Linked DNA regions of Homo sapiens: region 2 is linked to region 1. The links come from fine-mapping of genetic effects on gene expression. A gene starts in region 1. The other region holds a variant in brackets. All regions are shown on one strand. Distances are between the middles of the regions.

What was found. PIP is the estimated chance that this variant, and not a neighbour inherited with it, causes the effect. A credible set is the group of variants that fine-mapping cannot tell apart.
Region 2: its variant is the best candidate, but not a certain one, in a credible set for the expression of PFKM in whole blood (INTERVAL, PIP 0.51).

The regions. Positions count from the first base shown.
Region 1 is chr12:48,117,037-48,121,431 of GRCh38, forward strand. PFKM (phosphofructokinase, muscle) reads left to right here and starts at 2,328. Exons shown (of 23, transcript NM_000289.6): 1 at 2,328-2,370. RefSeq lists an enhancer at 1,924-1,993.
Region 2 is chr12:48,021,368-48,025,762 of GRCh38, forward strand. All of the region lies in intron 2 of LOC105369750 (a long non-coding RNA gene), which reads left to right. It overlaps LOC124902927 (a long non-coding RNA gene), which reads right to left and starts at 808. Exons shown (of 2, transcript XR_007063293.1): 1 at 598-808. RefSeq lists an enhancer at 151-1,142. The variant C/T (reference allele first, on the strand shown) is at 2,385.

The DNA.
Region 1 (4,395 bases):
CCCAAGCCCCAGTAACAACTGATATTTTTATTGTCTCCGTAGTTTTACCTTTTCCAGACTGTCATACAGTTGGAATCATACAGTATGCAGCCTTTTCACACTGGCCCGTTTCACTATGTCTTTTCCTGGCTTGATAATTTTTTATTGATGGAAAATATTCCATTGTATAGCTGTATCACAGTTTGTTTATTCACCTTTTGAGGGACATCTTGGTTGCCTCCAGCTTTTGGCAATTATGAATAAAGCTTTTATAAACATTCATGTGCAGGTTTTTTGTGCAGACATAATTTTCAGCTCATTCAGCTAAATACTTAGGAGTGCTATTGCTGGATCATGTGGTAAGACAATATTTAGCTTTGTAAAAAACTGTCAAACTGTCTTCTACAGTGACTGTACCATTGTGCATTCCCACCAGCAATTAATGAGAGTTCCAGTGGTTCCACATTCTCATTAGCATTTGGATTTTTGAATTTTAATCATTTAATCATTCTAATAGGTGTGTAGTGGTGTCTCACTGTTTTAATTTGCAGTTCGCTAATGACATATGATGTTGACATCTTTTCATGTTTATTTGCCACCTGTATATCTTCTTTGGTCAACTCTTTTGCCCATTTTTAAATTGAGGTATTTTCTTTTTATTGTCACTGAAAAGAGTCAAACTGTAAAACATTTGAAGAGATTTATCCTGAGCCAAATACGAGTGACCAATAGCTCCCCCATGACACAGCCCTCAGGAGATCCTGAGAACATGTGTTCAAGATGGTCGGGCCACAAGTTGGTTTTATAAATTTTAGGGAGATATAAGGTATCAATGAATATATGTAAGATGTACATTCATTTAGTCCAGAAAGGCGGGATAACTGGAAGCAGGGAGGGGGGAGCGGGGCTTCCAGGTCATAGGTAGATTCAAAGATTTTCTGATTGGAAATTGGTGAAAAGAGTTAAGTTATTGTCCAAAGACTTAATAGAAAAGCAATCTGTGAGGACCAAGGTTTTATCAGGTGGACAAAGCTTCCAGGTAGCAGGTTTCAGAGAATAGATTGTAAATGTTTCTTATCAGACTTAAAGAGTCTGTTCTATCAGTAATTCCAAAAGGGAGGAGCATATAATGAAGTGTGTCTGGCTTCCCCTTTCCATCAACGTCTGAACTAGTTTTTCAGATTAACTTTGGAATACCCTTGACTGAGAGGAGGGGTCTATTCAGATGGTTGAGGGGCTTATAATTTTATTTTTGGTTTACATTCTTAATGAGTTGCAAATGAGTTCTTTATTTATTCTGGATGCCAGCCCCTTATCAGATACATGATTTGCAAATATTTTCTCCCATTCTGTGGGTTGTCTTTCCACTTTCTTGATGGTATAATTTGGAGAACAAATGCTTTTATTTTGTGTAGTCAAATGGGGTTTTATCTCCTAGTCACTTGCATTTGTATTGTTTGTGCCAGAATGTGCAGAGGTAGAGATACAAGTAAGCAAGAGGAAGAGGGCAGTGGTAAAAGCAAGAGGAGACCCGACTGTGGAGACAATGAAGCAAAGGGAAGGTGAGACTTGAGTAATGGATGCACCTCTTGCTCTGGGAGCATCTGACCCTTTTTCCAGAGTGGATCCTGTTTGCTGTGAAGCCCAATTTATATGTTTGCTTCACTGCCAGAATCCCGCCCCCATCCCTCCCCACTGCAGGCTTGAGAAGTGGCCTCACAGACACGCCCTTCCCTCTTGACACTTTCATTCCAAATAGCTAGCTTTTCTGTACTTTCTCTGAGAAAGGTAATGTAAATGTAAAAGAAGTTTTTGAGGCTATTCTATAGAAGATGTCATAATTCAATGTTCCTCAAAGGCAGGGACTATATTTATTTTTTTTAAACCTCTCGGCACCTAATGCAAAATCTAGCACACAGACTCCCAAGAAATGTTTGCTTAAAGACGGATAGAGGGCCACAGGGGCAGGTTTTATTAGCAGTTGCTGAAGATGTTGGAATGCAAGGTGTCTCAGGCAGTCTGGACTAGGAAAAAGTTCTGTGTTGAAAACAAGAGAAGCAACGAAATAATTTATTATTCCCATTAAATAAAGATGCTGATGGCTCTCGAGATAGATATGAGGACCCCAGGACTCTGGGGAGTGAAGGAACTAAGCCGCTGCCATATCTGAGCTGAGTACTTAGGGGGAGGAGGAAGAGGAGGAGAAAGGCAAGCAGGAGGAGGCGGAGCCTTCTTGTCAGCATCTGTTAGTGGAGGTTGGGAAGCCTCTCCTCCTTCCCCCTCCCTCTTTGCCTCCACCTGGCTCCTCCCCATGTTCGTCCATCACCCCTCCCCCCTTTCCCAAGGACAATCTGCAAGAAAGCAGCGGCGGAGGAGAGCTAAGACTAAAAGGCAAGAGGGGCCATTGAGTGAAGAGCAAGGGGGAGAGCTGGGAGTGAGGTGGGAAGGTATGGGCCGGGAGCAGGCGGTAGGGAGAACTGAAAGGAGCAGAAAGGAAAAGAAGAGATACGGCATCCTAAGCTGGAGCCGAGAGGGGGATGGGCAGGGCAGTCGTGAAGGATCCTAGCCCCTTGGCCAGTCCCCTCCGCTTGCAGGCTCAGCTGCATTCCCCAGGAATCTGGGATGGGTGGGTGGGGCTCGGACGGGTTGCCCTTGGCTGCCTGACCCTACCCTGGCACTCACCCAATTCAAATCAGTGCTCCTATGATGCTGCTTTTCTGTTCCTCCCTGCCGCGTGCTTATATACGCACGTGATTTTAGAGATATGTTTTAATATCTGTCTGTTTTTGTCTACGTGCGTGTCATTGTGGGTCTGTAAGGGATGCTTATACATGAGTCTGCATGAATTTCTGTGTCCTGTGCCTCTATAACTGTCTTAGAGATTTCAGGAGAAGAATATGAGCGGTTTTTACAGGTCAGCACTCTTAAACTCCTCTTGTTATGGCGAATTTTCTCCCTCACTGACGCTTCCAGGGGTGGAAGAGCTCTGTGTGGGATTCTGCCCCCGTCATGAGCTCCAAGAGTGAATGAGAAGAAAAAACGGGAGGAAAGGGATCAGCATACCCAGATGTCTTGTTTTTTCCTTTCCACCTTTTTGCCTTCCTATTTGCCCTAGTCACTTAATCTTTCTTTTTGGAAAACAGCAGAAATTTGGACATGAACATTCCAGTTAAATAAGAGCGTCTCTAGTCACGCGTGTCTCTATGTTCCTTTCACTGTTTGTCACTATATGATTTCTCAAGTCCAAGTTAAAAGTGTGTTTTAAAGTAGAATATGGAGGTATATCTGTATCTAAGCCGATTTTACATTTTTCATATATTTGTATTTCATGTAGTTCATCAGTTCATTAACGTTTTCAACAAGTATTTATTGGGGTCCTGTAATGTGCATAGACTTTGCAAGTCTTTAGTGAGCTGTGGGAGAGTTTTTAAAAATGATCATGATCCCTGCCCTGGAGGAGTTCTCAGTCTAGTTAGGAAAAATGACTTTAGCAGCCATCCAGTCCAGTGGTTGGCAAACTTCGTCTGTAAAAGACCAGATAGTAAATATTTTAAACTGCAGGCTTATGAGTCTCTGTCACAATATCCATTCTGCTGTTGTAGCACAAAAACATCCATGATAATACGTGAATGAACGAAGGTAGTGCACATACTGAAATTTGAACTTAACATTTTTCACATGTCATGAAGTACTTTTTGCAACCACTAAAAAATATAAAAACCTTTCACAGCTTACTGCCATACAAAAATGTGAGAAGGGCTGGATTTGGCCTACAGGCTGTTGTATGCTGACCCCTGATCTAGTCCAACCCTCTTATCAGTGCGTACGAAACTATTAAAATGCCACATAAAGCAGGCCGAGCATGGTGGTTTATGCCTGTTATCCCAGCACTTTGGGAGGCAAGGTGGGCGGATCACCTGAAGTCAGGAGTTCAAGACCAGCTTGACCGACATGGTGAAAACCCGTCTCAATTAAAAATACAAAAATTAGCCGGGTGTGGTGGTGCATGTCTGTAATCCCAGCTACTCGGGAGGCTGAGGCAGGAGAATCACTTGAACCTGGGAGGCAGTGATCCAGTTTAGACAACATGTGGTTAGAGGAAGTCCAAAAGAAGGTTTCCTTGACCTGTGGTAATCAGTGAAGGTTTAATAAGGGTACAACTATCACTGGTCTTAAATGATGGAATGGGATGTGAATCTGTGGAAAGGGCCAGGGTAGCCACCTGGACAAGGGATGCAGTGTGCCCAGGCACTAAAGTGGGAAGAGCAAAGTAATGTTCAGGTGACAATGGAGCAGAGAATCTATAGGACCAACAGTTGAAGCTATATGCAAGGGCTAAATTGTAGAAGCTTCGAATGCCAACCCAACAAGTTGGGACCTTATTTGTTAGTACTGATTATATGTAGTACGTTCATT
Region 2 (4,395 bases), 96 kb before region 1:
TTCTGTGTCCCCTGCCATGTGTATCCAAGCACCAGCACCACAGTGCCTTTTTTTAGGCTCCATGCAGCTTAACTACAGGTCCCTGGGTCTGCAGACATGGAGATTTGCTGACCCTGAGGTGGGATGAGGAGGTAGGGGAAATAGCAAAAGAGTTGGATATTAAGATCAGAAAGCTTCTGGGCTCTCTCCAAAGAACCCCTAGCATCTAAAATGGCTTTGCTCCTATACCTCCTCTCAAAACAAAAAAAAAAAAAAAAAAAAAAAGAGAACAAAGAAGTCTGTTTCCTTATTCAACAGCTATTTGTCCAGCCTGAAAGAGCCCCTCTAGTCTAACCCTGTGCATGCTGCTGATCCTCTCCCAGAGTGCCTTCCAAGATTATTTCAGGAGCCTAGGAAGGCCCTAAGTGTGGCTTTGATCGCCATATTGGAAATGCTTCCCTCACTGGCTCCCTGGGCTCCAAGCCCAGTACTTGACAGTTGCCTGTAAACTGAGCAGGTCTTTATCTTAAAGACATCACAATGGACCCTAAACAAACACATTAACAACCACTCAGAGACCTAACGCTGGCCAATAAACAAACCCCCAGGAAAGCTTACTCAGAAAAGGTTCCTCCTTCCTGCAGCCCCTGAGGGCAGATCCCGGAGTCCCTCCTTCCTCAGCCTGCAGGCTGCTTTCCAAGGGCTCTCCAGCCCTCCCGGCAGGAATGTAATCATCTGCCCTGCGTGCCCTGCCTTCTCTCACCTTTACCCACAATAACCCAGCATGGTCACAATGCACTCAGTGCATACCTATTGCAAATAAAACAAGAAAGTAAATCTCCTTCAAAGGAACAGCTAATAGCTCCAGGCTACCAAAAACAATGTGTTCTATGGGAGCTAGCGATTACCCTATATACCAAGGGTTTAAATTTAAGGTCTTTAGATGAGCTTCGGAGGTTCCCTGAACCCCTACAATGATTTGCAAAATTTATATGTAGACTTATGAAGGGCATTTTTTCCCTAAGATACCGGGAAGGAGATTCCCTGTATCATCAGAGTTCAATATCAAAAATTTTTTTTAAATCTAGGTATCTATGGATAAAAGGATATGATGTCTAGATTTTGTTTCAAAACATTTCAGTTGGAGGACAAAGAGTGGGTGAAGTAGGTGCAGTTATGGATTAAACAAGATTGGCCATTAGTTGATACTTATTAAAGCTAGTGATGAGTGCTTGGAAATTTATTATATTATTCTGTCAAGAAAGAAGTGGAAGGAAGGAAGAAGAAAAGGAGGGAGTGAGGAAACCTTTTGCTACAGACTACGCTGAAAGAACCAGACAGACCATAGTATACATCTGCTATTCTCATAGTCCTAGCTTTATAGGAACAACTGCCCAGTGGATTGCCTGGTCAGTGTTTGAAAGCCTGGCAAATTTGTGGGTGCAGAGGCATGTTCTTCTCACTCTCACCCCCGCTCTCTATCCTCAGCATCACCCAGAGAGAGGGACCAGAATCCCTGAGGCCATCTTGGTTCATCTGCACCGTCTCTCCTACACCTCTTCACCCCTCCCCTCTCCACTTCACTCCAGGCTGCATTGGGGCGGGGAGGTGATCATCCAAGGCCCTGGCTCTCCATCGAGACCCCAGCCAGGTAGAGCCCCTATTGCCTGAGCAAGCTTGCGCAGGATGGGGCTGGAGCTGCACTATTTGGATCTTCTTGGAGTAGAAAATTCACAAATTCCAACCTCTGCTCCCAAAGCAAACCTCCCCAGCCCAGGTGGCTGCATCCTTCTCCTCCCCTCCCCCCAGTTCCCTGGGTCGCCAAGCCGGAGGCTTTGAAAACCAGCTTGTGTTTGGTTTGTGAAAGCACCAATGTTTGCAATGTTTGCCCAGCAGAGAAGGAGCATATTTTCTCCCTTCCAAATGCAAACTCAAAAGATGCTCCACCAGTTTTTCTTCAGACTTTCCACAGGAAACATAAATAAGAAAGAAAAATGACTTTAGGTGCTGAGACCTGAAATGGAATTTCAACCCTGAAGGAACTGCCTGTAACAAGCACTCTCTGTCCTTCAGTGAAGGCTTCGAGAGCCTAGGTGCATGTTTCTTTCCTCTGAGTAGCCTTCACAGATGAGGCAAGGGGAGGAGCTGAACCAGTTCTTAGACCTGACTCCCAGCTAGATCTTCAGCCCCACACAATGAATGGCCGGTGACTGGCACAGCAGCTGAGATTCCCTGGCTACAGTGTTCTTTTTTATCTTTCTTGATTGTGTTAGGGTAGAACAAATGAGGGTGCTGCAACCCGAGAGGCCCAGCCACACTGCAAGCCAGCACAATCAGAGTGTGAAGTGTGGACACGCCCCCCTGGAACACAAGGCCACAGTTTGCCACCTGCTCTGCCCTTGTCT[C/T]CATCTCGGAAGAAGGACATCCCTGATCTGTGGCCTCTGTCCTCACGGATCTTATAATTATCAGACAAACACAACCACAGAGAGGCTGGAAGGCAGTGCTTCAGCATCACACATATATGCATCGGTGACCAGAGTTCTGATTAATCTTAATGCACAGATAATTGGAGCATTTCTTGCTCACAGCTTATAGCCACCAAATGACTGCTTCCAGGTTAGGAGTTTGCAGAATATGTACACACACGGAGCCCTACAAAAGGCTCCAGACCCAAGAAATACAGGGTTGAAGTCAGTGTGGACAGTTCTAATGCAGCTAATACATTCTAACTGATTTGTTGTGAGCTAAGGGTTCAGTGTTTACACTTCAAGGTCACTGTTTCTGTCTCCTGACATCTGAGAACCTTTCTTCTTCTTCTTTTTTTTTTGAGACAGAGTCTTGCCGTGTCATCCAGGCTGGAGTGCAGTGGCATGATCTCGGCTCACTGTAACCTCTGCTTCCCAGGTTCAAGCGATTCTCTTGCCTCAGCCTCCTGAGTAGCTGGGATTATAGGCACCCCCCGCCAGACCTGGCAAATTTTGTATTTTTAGTTTCGCCGTGTTGGCCAGGCTGGTCTCGAACTCCTGGTCTCAAGTGATCCACCCACCTTAGCCTCCCAAAGTGCTGGGATTACAGGCGTGAGCCACCGCGCCTCACCCAAGAACTTTTCTTCTTAAGGTGTTTTCCTTTCCCATAGCATTCTATCTTTGGATAGGCCCAACGAGGCCATTGAGCATCTACCCTTTTTACAAAACATATTATCAATCTTATAGCCCATATGTTTAGTGATAAGTCAACTAAACAAAGCAAGGGACCCCACTGGAAGGTGCTTGTGGGAAGTGTACCCTTCCATCTAGGACTTCACTTTGATGTACCAAATTCTGAGAAAGACCCCAGAAGCCATTTCCTTCTTGCTGAGGTTTATTTATCTTGTTTATCTGAAGCCAGGGCCAATAACCCAAATGGCTTTCAAATGGCTACAAAAGTGTCTCAGCATTCGATTAATCAGTCCCATCACAGACAAGTCAACTAACCTGCAGACCCACGTGCTGTACTCATAGTCGTTGCTGGTTCTGGCAGGGGTGATCTGGGAGGAGGTATTTCCCGGAGGTGTTTCCGAAGGGAGAGGCACTAGCTGAAGTTGGCTCTGAGATTCGAAGCGGAGGAGGAAAGGGAAGGTGGAGTGCTGATGCTGACAAGGTGAGGAAGAGGAGGAGTAGAGGTTACCAGCGCTCAGAGCATGGGTTTTGGAGGCACACAGATCTGTGCCCAAAGGGCTATCAATGCTCTTCCACTTCATTGCTGAGCAACCTGATGTGTTCATACGTTCCCTGATGTGTAAAAGTGGCACAATACTTGCGTCTACCTTATAAAGTGCCTGCAAGCACTAAGACAAAATGTAGACAGAGCTTAATGCAGTGCCGGACTCAGTCAACAAATAGCAAATGGAAGTCGTTCTCATTAAACAGCGAAAAGGAAGTAAAAAGGAAGACAGAGGAAGACAAAGGGGAGATGGGGAGGGGATGCCGTGGGAGGCTGTGGGTGGGGTGCAGAGGCTGACACTGCAGACAGCAGCCCCTCACCCAGCTCCATCTCTGGGCGCCTGGGACAACACAGCTCTCGGTCCAGACAGGCTGCTCAGATGTTTATTAAGAAACCACCCATAAAAGTTATTGGAAACTTTACATTTGCAGCATGGTCTCTGCACACTGCCGAGCTGCCACGGCTCTCAACAAGGCCTCATTCACGGCCCTAGGCAGCTCACTTGCCTGCCCCCAGCCCCTGGGTCTCAAGCCCACCAGGGTGCCTCCCAGCCCCCGCCCCCAGCCCAAGCCTGGCCTCCTTCCCTCCCTTGGGTCTGAGTGATTTTCTGATTTGCCTTTTCCAAATGTGAAATCTTTGAATGAGGTCACTTCAACTGGAGAGCAAGGGATAGGCCACAAGACAATGTTTCCTAAGTGCAAAGGTCCCTGGGTG